Regions from separate parts of the Homo sapiens genome. Here region 1 is linked to region 2. The links come from fine-mapping of genetic effects on plasma protein levels. A gene starts in region 2. The other region holds a variant in brackets. All regions are shown on one strand. Distances are between the middles of the regions. Region 1 overlaps IL34 (interleukin 34). Region 2 holds the start of IL34 (interleukin 34).

The links. PIP is the posterior inclusion probability: the model's chance that the variant is causal. Protein levels are from antibody-based Olink assays in UK Biobank. Linkage for the fine-mapping came from a reference panel and not from the study's own genotypes, which makes the PIPs less certain.
Region 1: its variant is fine-mapped to the plasma level of the IL34 protein (UK Biobank, PIP above 0.99). The variant lies in the coding sequence of IL34. If it changes the protein, the assay may bind it differently, which can mimic a change of level.

The regions. Positions count from the first base shown.
Region 1 is chr16:70,651,936-70,660,499 of GRCh38, reverse strand. It overlaps IL34 (interleukin 34), which reads right to left. Exons shown (of 6, transcript NM_001393494.1): 2 at 5,829-5,962; 3 at 3,821-3,898; 4 at 3,379-3,540; 5 at 747-882; 6 at 1-503. The coding sequence ends at 313. Among named protein-coding and RNA genes, the nearest start is that of IL34, 9.7 kb to the right of the region's middle. The variant C/G (reference allele first, on the strand shown) is at 3,414.
Region 2 is chr16:70,641,343-70,651,217 of GRCh38, reverse strand. IL34 (interleukin 34) reads right to left here and starts at 4,659. Exons shown (of 6, transcript NM_001393494.1): 1 at 4,243-4,659. The coding sequence starts at 4,270. RefSeq lists an enhancer at 927-1,427.

The sequences.
Region 1 (8,564 bases), 9.9 kb before region 2:
GGCCACAGGAGGCTCAGTACCCCCTTTAGGCGGGGGGACAGTGAGGGCAGCACCAGGAGAAGCCAGGAGCTGTGTCCCCATCCACCTTCAGGTCCCCAGGTCCCCTCCGCTCCAGGTGAGGCCATGACAGCTATGGAAGGCAGGAAGCTGAGCCCTGCTGTGGCACAGAATCCCCCTCAAAGGAAAAACACCCTTCCCAGGGGTCCTCTCCCAAGGGGGGCTCCCACCACCACCCCTTGAAGTCTCAGACCCAGTTGAACTCCTGTGGGAGCTGGTCTGGCTGCCCCTATCCGCAGTCACCATCCAGGGTGCTCAGGGCAAGAGGCCCTCGCCCTGTGCCCTGACCGGCCTCACCGAGCCCGTGGAGTGAGGCGGGGAGCTGGGGGACCACGGGGGCGGAGGGTACAGCTGGGTGGCCGCATACTGCAATGAGGGCTCTGGGCTGCAAGACTGAGGACTTGGCACCTCACAGTCCTGCCAGTTTAGGACGGAGCTTTGTTTACCTGCAAGAGATAGGGGAAAAAAAAAAAGACTGCAGCAGTGTTCAAGACCACCCTCCCCACTAAGCCAAGCCGCATGTGCTTGTCCCCCACTCTACCCAGGGCCCATCCTGGCTTCCAGAAATGGCTTGTAGCCCCGGGGAGCAGAGGATATGCCCGGGAGGACGCCAGCTCTGCCAGCTGGCCTGGGTGGGCCCAGATGCCTGGCCTCCCACCCCCAGGCGCCATCCCCTGAGAGCTCCTTACAGCAGGAGCAGTACAGCAGCTCCATGACCCGGAAGCAGTTGTCCAGCAGGGCTTTGGGCCGCACCAGCTTCAGGTTTGGCCCTGGGGCATTCAAGAGGGACAACACGGATTCCACCTTGGGGCTGACCTCCACATCCTGGAAAGGAGGAAACAGTCAGGAGCGGTGGCGAGATGGGGCCGCACCCCAGGAGAGCCGTGAGGGCTGTCCAGTCACCTGGAGCTGCCCAAACCCCGGAAGAAGGACCAGACTTCCTGTGACCATGAGCCTGGATAGCTATTTCTCACCATCTTCTTCCTGTGGGCATGGGGAGGGTCCCAGATGCCACCACTCACCCATGTACAACTCAGAGGCTTCGCTTTTCCATCCTTGAAAAATGAGTAAAGGGCGTAGACCAGGACAGTGAGGAAAGTGGGGCAAACTGCACCCAGGCACGGCCACCCACCACTGCGTGAGGACCCCCTGACCTGGGGAAAACTGTCCCTCAAGAAGCAGACATCTCCATCAACTCCAAGGAACAAGAGAAGGTCCTCACAGAGACACTGAGGCTTAAGTCACATACACAGGGCAGGGTGTCCAGCTTCAAGCTGGGGTGCTTTCTCTCCACGATATGCAACAACAGGGTCATGTGGGGTGCACCGTGGCACCAAGGGAATCAAGTCCCTGAACAGGAGGTCAGGGCCACTGTAGAAAGCATCATGGGAAACGTGGGGGGTGATCTTCTGGAAGGGGGTGACAACAAGGCAACATGTCCTGGGCCAAATTGTCCCTCTCCTCCCCCAAAAAGCTGTCTTGGTCCTACCCCTTGGTACCCGTGAATGTGACCCTATTTGGAAATAGGTTCTTTGCAGAGGTAATTAAGTTCAGGATCTTAGAAGGACATCATCCTGGATTTCAGGTAGGCCCTAAATCCAATGCCTGATGTCCTTGTAAGAGAAAGGTGACAGACATGGAAACAGGGCAGAAGGCCATGAAAAGACTGAGACGGCCAGGAATGGTGGTTCAACCTGTAATCCCAGCACTTTGGGAGGCTGAGGGAGGCATATCACTTGAGGCCAGGAGTTCAAGACCAGCCTAACCAACATGGCAGAACCCCGTCTCTACTAAAAATACAGGTGTGGTGGCAGGCATCTATAATCCCAGCTACTTGGGAGGCTGAGGCAGGAGAATTGCTTGAACCTGGGAGACGGAGGTTGCAGTGAGCCAAGATTGCCCCACTGCAATGCACCTGGGCGACACAGTGAGACTCCGCCTCAAAAAAACAAAAAAAGCCACCACAGAGGCCAGGCAGGATGTAATCCCAGTCCTGTAATCCCAGGACTTTGGGAGGCTGAGGCAGAAAGATCACTTGAGGCCAGGGGTTCAAGACCAGCCTGGGCAACATAGCGAGACCCCCATCTCTAAAACAATAAAAAAGAAATAAAATGAAATAAACAGGAAAAAGAGCCACCAAGCAGATCAAGGAGTCTCCTGACTTTGTAGGAATTGACAGCCTCCCCACCAGTCTGGTTCCAGGAAAGCTCCAGGCAGCTGCAAAACAGGTGCTAGTCCCTAAGCCCTTTCACCGTCGGAAGCTCACAGTTGGCCTGGGATGTTCTCCCGACAAGCTGGGCCTTGTCAGCAGCTGGCTGGGCAGGGCAGCAGGTGGATCCCAGGGACAGGTGTGCACCAGAGTCCTGAGGAGGTCTGGTGGAGACGGGGAGAGGTCCCACCGCACACACGGCCTGCATGGGTCATCTCGCCACCTTCCTTTTTTACTACAACTCAGGCATTTTAGAGGATAATATCCCTGAGGCCTCAGATCAATTTCTCTGAGCGGGTCAGGGATGGGGGACCTCTTTTTTTAATTAACTAAAGTCCATAATTTACATTAGGGCTCACACTCTCTGTTGTACAGTTCTGTGGGTTGTGACAAATGCATGATGTCATGTATACAACATGAATGCATTATACAGCATAGTTTTTTGTTTTTTGTTTTGAGATGGAGTTTTTCGTTCTTGTTGCCCAAGCTGGAGTGCAATGGTGCAATCTCAGCTCACTGCAACCTCTGCCTCCCAGGTTCAAGCGATTCTCCTGCCTCAGCCTCCTGAGTAGCTGGGATAACAGGTGCCCACCACCAGGACTGGCTTATTTTTGTATTTTTAGTAGAGACGGGGTTTCACCATTTGGCCAGGCTGGTCTCAAACTCCTGACCTCGGCCTCCCAAAGTGCTGGGATTACAGGCATGAGCCGCCGCGCCCGGCCTGCAGCATGTTTTACTGCCCTAAACATTCCCTGTGCTCCATCCATTCTTCCCCTCTCCCCCTACCCCACCTCCAGGACCCTCGTGTTGCAGAAACAAAGAGGGTACGATGACTTGCCCAGGATCCAGAGGGAGAGAGGCAGAGCCTAGAACAGAGTCTCAGAGGCATCGCCTGCACCCCGAGCCCGGCTCTCATGACCACCACGGCTGCCTCTTCCTTCCACAGGCCTCTTTTCCTGCACCCCTCCCCCACTTCTCCCACGTCCCTCTGCTTGTGCCCATCTTTCCGTGTATTCACCCTTTCCCTCACTAGCCTTTGGCCACACCTCACACACATGTACACACGTGTGCACACACACACACCCCACCTGCCACTCCTCCACACAACTCACCGTGAGGCCCTGCTGGACATTCAGCAGCAGCGTCT[C/G]CACCTCCTGCAGGTACTTCCAGGATGGGTGGCCCTCGAGCAGCACGTCCTGCACCGACTCAGTGGCACTGAGGCTCACCAAGACCCACAGATACCGCAGCTCCCGCTCGCTCACCTGGGCCCTCTGCTGCGGAAACAGGGAAGTCACTGCAACTCGGGAGACATGGGCCTCTGGGCTCTGACCACTCCCTCACCAGGGACTTGCCCCTGCATAGGGAGCAGACGCGGGCCGTCCGCTGTGGACAGTGGACAAACATGTGCCTGGGCCAAGGGCCAGCCTGCTCTCGGGGCTGAGGAGAGGCCCCAGGCCAGCAGCACCACCTGCCAGTCCCAGCGCGCCTCTGAGGCTGGGGCCCACCGGATGTCGCAGGAGGCAGGGTCCCCCCAGCCCAGGAAGGGATTCTCACCAGCCTGGTGACGTTGGCGATTCTGAACACCCCCTCGTAAGGCACACTGATCTTGTAGTTGATGGGGAAGTAGTGTTTCTGGAGAGGCACAAGAACAAACTATGAGGCCAGAAGTAGAAATGACCAGCAGGCTCCCCAACCTCCCAAATGATGTTTTTTTTAACAGTTAGTCTCACTCTGTCACCCAGTATGGAGTGCAGGGGCAGCATCATGGCTCACGGAAGCCTTGACCTCCCAGGCTCAAGCAATCCTTCCACCTCAGCCTCCCAAGTAGGTGGGACTACAGGTGTGTGCCACCACGCCCAGATGATTTTTTTATTTTTTGTAGAGATGGGGTTTCTTCTTGTTGCCCAGGCTGGTCTTGAATCCCGGGCTCAAGCCCCTCAAAGTGCTGGGGTTATAGGTATGAGCCACCATGCCCGGCCTCCAGATGAATTTTGATGTAGGAGGAGAGAACTCAGGGCCCAGACCTTTGACGGCAGAGGTGGTCCTGTGCAGAGAGGTGTGCCTGGCTCCCAGCTGGGATAAAAACACTTCACTTTCCTCTGGGACTCAGGGTGGGTGAAACAAAATACACAGTTCCTGTTAAGGCAGAAATTTCAGGCTCAAGAGTGAGGACACGTTACTTCAAGAAAAACATGTTATTTTGTGGGTGAGAATGTTCTAAAACCTATGATGGTGATGGTTGCACAACTCTGTGAACTAAAAACTCTTTGAGTTGTGCACTTTAAATGAGTAAATTATGTCTTTTATATATAAATATGTAAATTATATCTCAGTAAAGCTGTTAAAATAAAAAAGACACAAGCCAGGTGCAGTGGCTCACGCCTGTAATCCCAGCACCTTGGGAGGCTGAGGAGAGACAGTCACTTGAGCACAGGAGTTTAAGTTTACACTGAGCTATGATCCCGCCACTACACTTCAGCCTGGACAACAGAGTGACACCCTGTCTCTAAAAATTAAATTAATTAATTTAAAAAGATACATTGGTCAGGCATGGTGGCTCACACCTATAATCCCAGCACTTTGGGAGGCCAAGGTGGGCATATTGCTTGAGCCCAGGAGTTCAAGACCACCCTGGGCAACATGGTGAACCCCTGTCTCTACTCAAAAAAAAAGTTTTAATTAGCTGGGCATGGTGGTGCATGCCTGTAGTCCCAGCTACTTGGGAGGCTGAGGTGGGAGGATCATTTGAGCCTTGGAGGTGGAGGTTGCAGTGAGCTGAAATTATCCACTGCACTCCAGCCTGGGCAACAGAGCAAGACCCTGTCTCAAAAGAAAAGAAAAGGATTTTTAGGAAAAGTTAAAAAATTAAAAAGAAAAAAAAAGGGCCGGGCGCAGTGGCTCACGCCTGTAATCCCAGCACTTTGGGAGGCTGAGGCAGGCGGATCACGAGGTCAAGAGATGGAGACCATCCTGACTAACATGGTGAAACCCCGTCTCTACTAAAATTGCAAAAATTAGCTGGGCATGGTGGCGCGCACCTGTAGTCCCAGCTACTCGGGAGGCTGAGGCAGGAGAATCACTGGAACCGGGGAGGTGGAGGTTGCAGTGAGCCAAGATTGAGCCACTGCACTCCAGCCTGGTGACAGACCAAGACTCCGTCTCAAAAAAAAAAAAAGATACATAGAGCCACACAGACATCTCCACTCTGCAAAAAGAACCAAATATTCCGATTTCTAGGTCTTTAGCTCCCTGGCTAATAAGTGCCTGGGGTTTGTCAAAGAGCTCCAGGTGTCCATTCCTGAGTCATATGGTGACTGCCATCATGGAGGTGGGATTAAAGTGAGATCGAGGAGGAGGGGTGGAGGCCCCAGGAGATGGCAGGAGGAGGGTCAGTAAGTGCAGACCAGGTGCATGGGTAGGTTTCGGAGAAAGGCAGAGAAACAGGCCATGGTCGGCTCAGGGCTGACACAGGTCCTAAGAAGGGCTCTGAATGTCCAGAGGCCTATGCCAGGTGAACCCCGGGACGCGGGGACAGGGACACAGCTGGTGCCCACGTGGTTACCATGTACTGAAGTCGGCTCCTGTACTGCAGCTTGTCCCGCAGAAAACCCGTGACAGTGCACTCCTCATTCTGCGTCAAGGGCCACATCTCCAAAGGCTCATTCCCCAAGGCCACGCCAAGGAAGATCCCAAGATCTGTGGACCACACCCGACAAGAGCACATGAGCACCCTCCATCTCATCCACGCCGTCCACAACACGCAAAGCCGAGCACAACCATCATCCATTTGCATAGGAGACAAGCACCAATGGGAAAGGTGTGGTGGGGGGCACGGGATCTGGAATGCTTTCCCTGGGGTCTGGCTCCAGAACAGCAAGGTCAGGCAGGCACTAGCAGTGCAGAGAGTCCACACCCACCCCATGCCGGCCACTGGAGCCCCCCAGGAGGCACGCCTCAGGGTCGACGTCTGGTCTCCCCGCTTCTGTCGCTCCGTGGGGCAGGCACAACCTCCCGCCCAGAACAGCCTCTGCCCCTGGTGTCCGGGTGATATGTTTTCAAAGCTCGTTGCTGGGTTTTCCAGCCCGGCATTCAGGAGATCGAATCATCCTGGATTCTGGTTTCAACTTGATAAAATGACTCTTCAGTCACCCACGCCCCACACCACTTTCCTTCCTGCTCTATCTGATCTTAGTGTCCCTCCCAGCTAACTATGCCAGCGGGTCTGTAGCGCCTTCCAGTCTGGTCATTCTAGGACGTTAAGCAGATCTCATACTTGGCTGCCTCTCTTCCTGCAACAAACGAGCCGCTGAAACATTACCATCCTTTGCCACTGGGGGTCACTGTGACTCCAAAAACAGCCTATACGATTTCCATGTGACTGAACAGAAAAAAAGGAGAGAATTCGCAACAAATATGAATAAAGGTTAAGTCCATCAGAGCAGAAAGAATAAAACAGAAGTAGGCCAGCAACTACCCAAAATATCAGACTCACTAACTAGATAAATAAATTCACATTAAAACAATCAGATATAATTTTTCTTTTTCTTTTTTTTGGTCACCCTGGCTGGAGTGCAGTAGTGGGATCATGGCTCATTGCATCCTAGAACTCCCAGACTCAAGCGATCCTTCTGCCTCAGCCTCCAGAGTAGCTAGGACTACAGTTGCATGCTACTACGCCTGCTAATTTTTGTATTTTTTGTAGAGACCTGGTATCGCCATGTTGGCCAGACTTGCCTCGAACTCCTGAGCTCAAGCAATTCTCCTGCCTCAGCCTCCCAAAGTGCTGGGATTATAGGTGTGAGCCACTGTGCCTGGCCCATTTTATTCAAATGAAAAAGTTTTTGTGTTTGTGGTTTTGGGTTGTTGGGGCTTTTTTTTTTTTTTTTTGAGACAGGGTTTTGCTATGTTGCCCAGGCTTGTCTGAAACTCCTAGTGTCAAGCGGTCCTTCCATCGTGGCCTCCTGAGTAGCTGGGATGAGAGGCATGTGCCACTACACCCAGCTTCCCAGCTTTTTCTTTTTTAGACAGAATCTTTCTCTGTCACCCAGGCTAGAGTACAGTGGCACAATCTCAGCTCACCGTAACCTCCACCTCCCAGGCTCAAGCAATTCTCGTGCCTCAGGCCTCAGCCTCCCAAGTAGCTGGGATTACAAGCAGGGGCTACTACACCCGGCCAATATTTTGTATTTTTAGTAGAGATGGGGTTTCACCATGTTGGCCAGGCTGTTCTCAAACTCCTGACCTCAAGTTGATCTCCCTGCCTCTGCCTCCCAAAGTGCTGGATTTACAGGCACGAGCCACCATGCCCGGTCATACACCCAGCTCATTTCGTTTTAACAATTACTACTTGATGTTGGCCAAGTAGTGAGACAAGTGCTGTCCTGGAAAGCAATTTAGCAATTTCTGTTATTAATCGATTTAGTAGTATCCGCACCCTTCAAACCACTAAGCCTTAAAAATGTCTATACTCTTTCACCCAGTAAATACACTTCTAGGAATAAATTGGAAGAAAAGCAAAAAAGATATAACCAATAAATTATGAACAAAGATGTACAGAGCAGCATTTATTTTATAACAGTGAAAATCTGGAAATGGCCTAGACGTTCCATAATAATGCATGTAGCCAATAAAAATCACATTGTCAAAGATGTGGCTGTGCTATGAGAACAATTAGATATGCTTAGTGAAGCTTAAAAACAGCATGACTCAACACTATCTGTGTTCATAGCATGACTACCAAATCTCTATGGGAGATTTTTTCATGTTTTTCTTTTCAAATAGGGTCTTGCTCTGTCGCCCAGGCAGACAGGTGCAGTGGCACCATCATTGTTCACTGCAATCTCAAACTCCTGGGTTCAAGCAATCCTCCTGCCTCAGCCTCCCAGTAACTGGTACTACAGGTGCCACCACCACACCCAGCTAATTTTTTTTTTAATTTTTTGTAGAGAGGAGGTCTTGCTGTTTTGCCCAGGCTGGTTTTGAACTCCTATGCTCAAGTGATGCTCCCACCTTGGCCTCCAAAAGTGCTGGGATTACAGGCATGAGCCACCACACCTGGCCTTGGCCTTGCAGGACATTTATTTTTATTTTTATTTATTTTTTTTTTGAGACGGAGTCCCGCTCTGTCACCCAGGCTGGAGTGCCGTGGCGCAATCTTGGCTCACTGCAACCTCCGCTTCCTGGGCTCATGCCATTCTCCTGCCTCAGCCTCCCGAGTAGCTGGGATTACAAGGTGTGCGCCACCACATCCAGCTAAATTTTTTTGTATTTTTAGTACAGACGGGGTTTCACCAGGTTG
Region 2 (9,875 bases):
CTTTCAAAGCCTCCCAGAGACTCTTCTCTCCCCCCCATCACCACGCCAGGGTCTCCCCTTTCTGCATCAGCCCCCATCGGTCTCTGTCTCCAGCACCACCTTCCCCATTCACTCATGACCTGGGATTACAGGTGCGCGCCACCACATCCGGCTAATTTTTTTTGTATTTTTAGTAGAGACGGCGTTTCACCAGGTTGGCCAGGCTGGTCTTGAACTCCTGACCTCGTGATCCACTCACCTCGGCTTCCCAAAGTGCTGGGATTACAGGCGTGAGCCTGTGTGTGAATCCATAACGCAGTTAAACACTGCACAGCCCAGCGTGCTGAGAACTTCACATGTGCATTTGGGGATTCGCCTCAAGCAGTAGAAATGGGAGCAGACATTGTCATCCCTTGCAGAGCTCGTTAAGGCACAGGTTGTCCTGCCTGCCCCAGAGTCTCTGCTCAACCAGTCTAGGATGCAGAGAGTCTACCTTTCTAACAAGGTCCCAGGTAAAGCTGTGGCTGGGGGTCTGGAACCACAGACCTAGAGCAACAGTTGCAAGCTGGTGTCCCGAGAGCCACCTCTGGTCCACAAGGATTTCACACAACAATTCAAAATTTCAGCTTTTCTTTAAAAAAATCAGTACCTCTGTCCACACTGGGTCTTTTTTCCTGTGTGGCCATCACCATTGGCCGTCTACTTCACCTCCCAACCCTACAGCACCTGCCCTTCTCTGTGTCCCGTTCTGGGGCCCTGGGGACCCGGCAGCTGTGGCCTCAAGGCAGGGACTGTGCCTTGGAGTGACACTGAGCCTCCCAGCCTGACACGGTGGGCACACAGCTGCCCTGGAAACCCTGTCCACAGATGATCTGCCTCTCCCCCAACTGGGCAGCCTTCCTCTGAGTGCAGCCCAAACATCATTGCTAAGGGCAAGTTTCTTTTTTTGCTGCCTCCACCCACCCAGAGAAACAGGTTAACAAACAGGGACCAGGCAGGGACAGCACAGCCCCAACCTCAAGGCCACTGTCCCCCACATGCTCTGCACACCAGGAACCCCACAGCCAGTGCCACCCCTGACCTTGGTCAGGAGACCCACCCTGCCCTTGTCTTAGCCCAGAGGTAAGAACCCACAACACAGGCTGGGCACGGAGGCTCACACCTGTAATCCCAGCACTTTGGAAGGCCGAGGTGGGCGGATCACCTGAGGTCAGGAGTTCAAGACCAGTCTGGCCAACATGGTGAAACCCCATCGCTACTAAAAATACAAAAATTAGCCAGGCGCAGTGGCAGGTGCCTGTAGTCCCAGCTACTCGGGAGGCTGAGACACAAGAATCATCTGAACCCAAGAGGCAGAGGATGCAGTGAGCTGAGATCGTGCCGCAGCACTCCAGCCTGGGTGACAGAGTGAGACTCCGTCTCAAAAAATAAAAATAAAAATAAAATAATAAAACAACCTGCAAGACAGAGAGGAGGCTTAAGAAAGATCTGTGTGAGTACGGTACTCCCTTCCTGGTTCCCTGGCCCTGGGTTGACCCTATGTGCAGTGACAAGTGAGGCTTGTCACCCCCAGCCCCGGGGACCAAATCTGAACCTGTGCAGTGGGTTAAATAGCATCTCCTCCAAATCCACATTCACCCGAACCCGAGTGTGACCTTGTTTGGAAATGGGGTCTTTGTGAAGTAGGAGGTAGGACCGACTCCAGAGGCAGAGCCCTGACACTGGACCAAACTGAGGACTAGTGAAAACAGGGGTGGACGGGGCAGAAGCAGCATTCCAAAAGACATGCTCAGCAGTGTGCCATGTCAGTTTACCATTGCCATGGCAACGCCTGGGAGTTACCACCGCTTTCCATAGCAATGACCCAATGTCCCAAAAGTTACTACCCCTTCCCTAGAAATGTCTGCATAAACTGCCCCTTAATCTGCATGCAATTAAAGGTGGGTATAAATATGACTGCAAAAGGCCCCGAGCTGCTCCTCAGTACGCTTCCTCTGGCACAGCCCTGCTCTGCAGGAGCTGGCACAGAGCTATAACATCTCTTCAGTAAAGCTGTTTTCTTCTACCACCAGCTTGCCTTGAATTCTCTCCTAGGGAAAGCCAAGAACCCTCGCAGGCTAAGCCCCCTTGGGGGCTCGCCTGTCCTGTGCCACTTACAGGCATTATTAAATGAAGGATGTCAAGATTAGGCCATCCTGGATTTAGGCAGTTCCCTAAATCCAGTGACTAGTGTCCTAGGAAGAAGAGGAGAGGACATAGAGACACACAAAGGGAAAGGCCACGCAAAGACAAAGGGAGATCTGAGTGACTAGGCCACAAGCCAAGGAAGCCAGGAGCCACCAGGAGCTGGAAGAGGCAAGGGAGGCTCCTTCTCGGCACCTTTAGAGGGAACGCAGCCCTGCAGGCACCCTGATCTCACACTTCCGGTCTCCAGAACTGTGAGACGACACATTCCTGTTGCTCTAAGCCACCCGAAGCTTTCTAATTGGTTATGGCAGCCCAACTTCCTCAGCACCCCAGCCCCTGGGCACCAGCCCCCACCTCAATCTGCTGCTCTCCCTCTCCCTCATCCCCCAGCCAGTCTTTGCCTGGTCCTAAGACCCACCCCTCCTGGAGCTTTTTCCCCTCTCCCTTGCTTTTCTTTCTCTCTTTTTCTTTTCTCCTTTTTTTTTTTTTTTTTTTTTTTAAAGACAGGGTCTCACCCTGTTGCCCAGGCTGCAGTGCAGTGATGCGATCCTTGCTACTGCAGCCTCAACCTCCTGGGCTCAAGTGATCCTCCCACCTCAGCCTCCTGAGTAGCTGGGATTACAGATGTATGCCACCACACCTGGCTAATTTTCCTTTTTTTAGAGATGGAGTCTCGCTATGCTGCCCAGCCTGGTTTCAAACTCCTGGCCTCAAGCCGTCCTCCTGCCTTGGCCTCCCACAGTGCTGGGATCACGGGCGTGAGCCACCAGCCCAGCATCCCTTGCCTTTCATTCGCACCTCCACCTCCAGAATGACCCTCATTCCCTCCTGCACAGACGGTGACAGCAGTAACTCCTACAAACACCACCAGACTGATCTTCAAGAGCAGAGGAACTCCCAATCACGATTCCACCCCCGCCGGGCTCTCAAATCCTCCAGGGCTGCCTGCTATGGGGAGGGAGGCACACTTTGCTTGGCTCTCAAGGCCTCAGCCAGCCGGGTCCAAACCAGCTCCCAGCCTGGCCTCACCATCCCACCGCCAAACCTTTGCTCACACTGGCCCCTCTTCCTGGAACATGGGCCTCATGACCCCAGGTCTACCTGTGTGACCACCACCCCACCTTCTAGACCATTTCCAGTAGCCCCTCCCCCATGCTGCACCCCTGCTTCTCATGACCTAGGGGTTTCCAGAACATTGGGTCCAGCTGGGTCCTTCCACCCATCCTTAATGTCCCAACCCTTTGTTGTATATTTCCACAAGGGCCAGGGTGGACCCAACTCTTCTTTCAATCCCTCGCAGGCTCATACCCCAAACCTCCAACAGTTCCTGAGCACTCAACCCTGTGCCAGGCGTTGGAGACAGAGGCACGAGACAGCAAGGTCCTTGTTGTCATGGCAGTGACTCTGCAGTGGGCACGTGGGAGGCACCGGAAAAATGTGTTGAATTTGAGTCAATTGAACTGGATCTTGGAGACTGAGGGGATCTTGGTCTGGCCTCCCAGCCAGCAGGCATAAGAGGCTTCCAGATCCTTTTTTTCCTTTCTGTCCTCATTTCAACTTATTTTTCTTTTTACCAACAGTGTTATCTTTCTGCTTTTTAATTCTGTTCTGTTATGGAGGGAGGGTTGGAGGGGAACAGGCTGCCTTCTCCAGGCATCTGGCTGCTCTTCTGCCGTGGGTCTTGGGTCCCTAGACACTTTCACCAGCCCCTGCCCCCCTCCACCGGCCATACCCAGGACTGGGCCGCTGCTGCCCGCCCGGGGCTCCCCAACACCCACAAGCCTGGAAAGGTGAGATGCTGCCACCTACCCCCAGTGCCTGCCCCGACCTAAGACCACCCTGAGGACCATGCCCACCCAGCCAGAACTGCCCACCCAGCTTGCCCGTCGGAGCCCGAAGTGAGCGGCAGACAGGGCAGACGGCGGCCGTGGGAATCTCAGAGGGTGTCTGCAGTCCGGCTGGGAAGCATCGCAACTTCTCACCAGCAAGAATGCCCTGGTTGCTATGGTTACGGCAGATCCTGGATCTAGGCCAAGGCCTCCCAATGCAGGTCCCTAGGGACCCCCCAGTACTCACAGCGCAGCCAGGTGAAGCCCCGGGGCATGGTGGTGTTCCTCGTCCCCCTGAGAGCTCAGGCGCCGTCCCCAGCAGTGTGTCCACAGAGGCCTAAGCACGGCCTACATGGCCTCGGGGCAGCAGAGGTGGTCACTCAGTCAGGGAAGGGCTGGCCCTGGAGGAGTGGCTGGGCTGCGGGAGTGAGCAGGTGCCCCAAGGGCAGCAGCTGCCCTTATCTGCCCGGCAGCGTGGAGGACAGCCGGGGGGCGGTGGCCGCAAGTCCCATGGCAGCCCAGAAGCAGGTCTGAGCCGGTGGCTTGGGGGTCTTTCGGGGTCTTCCTTTCCAAGGAGCAGGAGGAGAGAGTCCCTGGCAGGCCCCTCGGAATCTGGGGCTGGGTGACGCTTTCTCTGATTTCTCCGACTGCAGCTGCTCAGTGTGAAATCTGGCTCTAGGAAGAGAAAGGAGGAGAGAAACTGATTATGTAAGAGCAGCGCTGCCACTCAGCCATCAGCCACAGCGCACACCGCACCCACGGCCTGCACAGGACCACCCGGCCCTGGCAGCTGGACACGGCTCACGTGAGAAATGACTTCAGGATGTCCGAACGGCCCTGGCCCATGAGTGAGTTATGATGACACCAGCTGGCAGCCTGGGGCCTGAACAAAAGCAGGACCAAGGAATGAACAGGTGGTTTGAGTTCACACATCGAGAGCCATGGTAGAGTCCATGAATGACTCAGGCTAAAGGACAGGTTAAAAAAGCAGACGAGCTCCCACTCCGAAAACAAGCCGGACGCAATGGCTCATGCTTGTAATCCCAGCACTTTGGGAGGCCAAGGTGGGAGGATTGCGTGAGCCCAGGAGTTCGAGACCAGCCTGGTCAGCATAGTAAGACCTCAGTTCTATTAATAAAAAAAAAATTAAGAAAAAAAAAATTTTTTTGAGACGGAGTCTCAGACTCTGTCATCCAGGCTGTAGTGCAGTGGCGTGATTTTGGCTCACTGCAGCCTCCACCTCCAGGGTTCAAGCAATTCTCCTGCTTCAGCCTCCCAAGTAGCTGGGATTACAGATGTGCACTACCATGCCTGGCTAATTTTTGTATTTTTAGTAGAGATGGGGTTTCACCATGTTGGCCAGGCTAGTCTCAAACTCCTGGACTCAAGTGATCTGCTGTCTTGGCCTCCCAAAGTGCTGGGATTACAGGCGTGAGCCACCGCACCCGGCCAGGACTAAGGTCTTTACATTCACTGAATCTCTCACAACAATCTCATGGAAGTGCAAAATCTCAGTTTATCAATGAGGAAACTGAGGCCCAGAAAGGTTAAGACACTTGTCCAAGGTCATACGGCTTGTAAGAAGTGTGACAGGAATTCAAACCCTGTGGGCTGGTGGCTGCTCCCAAAATTCGACAACCACACAGGGCTCAGCGTGTGTGCGTGGTCCTCCCATCTGCCCCTCTGGACTCTGCAAGGTCTGGACCATTGTGTCTGCTCTGCAGATCAGGCTGGAATTCCGTCTCTGATTTAGTTCTCTTCCATCCCCTCGCCTCCTCCCTGTCTCCCCTCTGGTGGGGGAAAATGGCTACAGAGTGACACCATCGGGGGAGAGCAGGTATGACTTGGGCATCTTCTTCATTGTGTGATCCATGGTGTCACCAAAGAATGCTGGCCCTTACCCTAAGAGGTGCCCAGCAGGCAGGCAGGGCCTTATAGAGAGAACACGGGTTGTTCAAGTTAATCCCTTATGCAGTCACCCTGAATCTCAGCCCCAGTCGCTGCCTGCTGCTGCTCCTCTTTTCCTTGTCCTTCCTCCTTTTCCTCCTTCCTCTTCCTCCTTCTCTTCCTCCTCCTCCTTCCTCGTCTTCCTCCTTCCTCCCTCTTCTTCCTCCTCTTTCCCCCTCCTCCTTCCTACTCTTCCCTCTTCCTTTCTCCTTCCTTCTCTTCCTCCTTCCTCGTCCTCCTTCCTTTTTCCTTCTCCTCCTTCCTCCTCTTCCTCTTCTTCCTCCTTCCTCCTACTCCCTTTCTCTTCCTCCTTCCTCCTCCTCTTCCTCCTTCCTCCTCTTCCTCCTTCCTCCTCCTTCTCCTCCCTCCTCTTCCTCCTTCCTCTTCCACCTCCTTCCTCTTCCTACTTCCTCCTCTTCCTCCTCTTCCCTCCTTCCTCTTCCTCCTTCCTCCTCCCTTCCTCCTTTTCATTCCTCCTCCCTCCTCCTTTTCCTCCCTCCTCCCTCCTCCTTTTCCTCCCTCCTCCCTCCTCCTCTTCCTCTTCCCCCTCCCCCTCCTCCTCCCCCTCCTCCTCCTCCTCACCCTGGCAATTCCCCTGCTGTTACAGCATCACTACAAACACTAACGTATCTAGAACATTTAGTTGTCATTAGTTTGGGGATTTTTTTCAGGTTTATTGAGGGCTAATTTACATATACTACATTTTACCCTTTTCAGTATACATTTCTAAAAGTTTTTAGCACATTTATAGAGCTGTGTAATTACTATAATAATCAAGATACAAAACATTTCCATCTACCCAAAAAATTCATTCCTTTATAGTGGAAGTTGTCTAAACAAACTGAAACAAGGTAGAATAGTATAACAGACCCCCATATAGCAGTTACTCAGATTCAAAAATTGTCAATCTGGCTGGGTGCAGTGTCTCACACCTGTAATCCCAGCACTTTGGGAGGCCGAGGCGGGTGAATCAGTTGAGGCAGAATAAACTCCAAGGAGAAGGGGAAAAAACAACTTCAAATACCAATAGAAAAACAAAAAAGTTATTTCCACAGAGTTGTCCATAAAAGGTCAGGACTTTGAGACCAGCCTGGCCAACATGGTGAAACCCTGTCTCTACTAAAAATACAAAAATTAGCCAGGTGTGGTGGTGCATGCCTGTAATCCCAGCTACTCAGGAGGCTGAGGCAGCAGAATCACTGGAACCCAGGAGGCGGAGGTTGCAGTGAGCCAAGATTGCTCCACTGCCCTCCAGTCGGGGCAACAGAGCGAGATTCTGTCTCAAAACAAAAGAAAAAAATGATCACTCTTCTGTCATTCCAGCTTCACTCATCCCCCAATTTTTTTTTCCAGGAATATTTTAAAGCAAATCTCAAACATGCCATTTCACCAGCATGTAGGGATTTTTAAAATATATAATCACAATATTGTCATCACACAACCCTCAAATTAATAACTCTTTAATATGATTTCATATAGAATCCACGTTCAATTTTCCCTGGTTATTTTTTAAATCTCTGATGTGCATCTTAAGTCTTTTTTCTTTTTAAAAATCAATATATAATTTGCATGCCATAAAATTTACCATTTTAAAGTGTACAGGCTGCGTGTGATGGCTCACACTTGTAATCCCAGCACCTTGGGAGGCCAAGGCCGGGGGATCGCTTCAGCCCAGGGCTTTGAGACCAGCCCGGGCAACATAGTGAGAACCCGTATCTACCAACAAAAATTTTTTTAATTAGGTGGGTGTAGTGGCACGGGCCTGTGGTCCCAGCTACTTGGGAGGCTGAGATGGGAGGATCACTTGAGCCAGGGAGGTCAAGGCTGCAGTGAACCATGATCACGCCACTGCACTCCAGCATGGGTGACAAAGCAAGACCCTGTCTCAAAATAAATAAATAAAGTGTGCAACAGCCAGGTGCAGTGGCTCACTCCTGTCATCCCTGCAGTTTGGGAGGCCAAGGCAGGTGGATCACCTGAGGTCAGGGATTCGAGACCAGCCTGGCCAATATGGCAAAACCCTATCTCTACTAAACATACAAAAGATTAGCCAGGCACGGTGGTGCGCACCTGTAATCCCAGCTACTCAGGAGGCTGAGGCAGGAGAATCACTTGAACCCGGGAGGCAGAGGTTGCAGTGAGCCGAGGTAGTCCCACTGCACTCCAGCCTGGGTGACAGAGTGAGATCCGTCTCAAAAATAAATAAAAATAAATAAAAATAAATAATAAAGTGTACAACTTTGTGGGTTTTTAGTGTACTAAGTTGTGCAACAGTCACCATTATTTAATTACAGAACATTTTCATCACCCCCAAAATAAACTCTGAACTCATTAGCAGTCACCCCCTATTCCCTCTTCCTCCCAGCCCCTGGCAGCCACTAATATTCTTTCTGTCTCTATGGATTTGCCTATTCTGGACATTTCATATAAATGGGATTGATTATGCAATACGGGACCTTTCATGTCTGGCTTCTTTCACTTAGCATGTTTTCAGGGTTCATTCATTTTGTAGCATGTTATGAACTGAATGTTTGTGTCTCTCCAAAATACATGTGTTGAAGTTGTAACCCCTAATGTGGTGGTTCCTGGAGATGAGGCCTTGGGAGATAATTAGGTTTGGATGAGGTCACAAGGATGGGGTCCTTATGGTGGGATAATGCCTTTATAAGAAAAGAAATCAGGCCGGGCTCAGTGGCTCACGCCTGTAATCCCAGCACTTTGGGAGCCCAAGGCGGGAGGATCACAAGGTAAGGAGTTCAAGACAAGCCTGACCAACATGGTGAAACACCGTCTCCACTAAAAATACAAAAATTAGGCGGGCGCAGTGGCAGGTGCCTGTAATCCCAGCTACTCAGGAGGCTGAGGCAGGAGAATCGCTTGAACTCAGAGGGCAAAGTTTGCAGTGAGCCGAGATCATGCCACTGCACTCCAGCCTGGGTAACAGAGTGAGACTCCGTCTCAAAAAAAAAAAAAAAAAAAAAGACATCAGAGTACGCTCACTCTCTCTGTCTCTGTCTTTGTCTCTCTCTCTCTCTGTCTCTTCCCATACTCACACAAAGAACTGGTCATGTGAGTACATAGTGAGAAGGTGGCCATCTGCAACCCAAGGGAAGAGCCCTCACCGGAAATCAATCATGCTGGTGCCCTGATCTCAAAGTTCCAGCCCAGAGAATGGTGAGAAAACAGATTTCTGTTGTTTAAGCCACCCGGTCTATGGTATTTTTTTATGGAAGGCCAGGTAAACTAAGACACAGCATGTATCCGTACTTTACTCTTTTTATTGTCAAATAATGCTCCCTTGCATGAATATCCCACATTTTCTTTGTCCATTTCAGATTGTATTGTTTTCTGGCTTCCTCCAAAATAACTAATGAGGATTTTTAGTGTCATTTTGAAATTATTAATTTTGGCCAGGCGCAGTGGCTCATGCCTATAATTCCAACACTTTGGGAGGTTGCGGGGGGGTGGATTGCTTGAGCCCAGGAGTTCAAGACCAGCCTGGGCAACACAGCAAAACCCTGTCTCTACAAAAAATACAAAAATTAGCCGGACAAGGAGGCATGCACCTGTACTCCCAGCTGCTAGGGAGGCTAAGGTGGGAAGATCACTTGAATCTGGGGAGGTGGAGGCAGCAACAGGCCATGATCATGCCACTGCACTCCAGCCTTGGCAACAGAGTGAGATTCCATCTCAAAAAGTAAAAAAAAAAAGAAAGAAAGGCAGGAAGGAAGGAAGGAAGGGAGGGAGGGAGGAAGGGAGGGAGGGAGAGAGGGAGGGAAAGAATTTTTTTAATTTATGTATTTCAATCCATTGAAGTTACTTTAAAGTCAGGCTTATTGAGGTGTAATTGATGGACAGTGAAGCTCACCTTCTTTAAGTATACAGTGCCCTTGGTTGGTGAACTTTTGGGCTGTTTCCACCTTTTGGCCATTA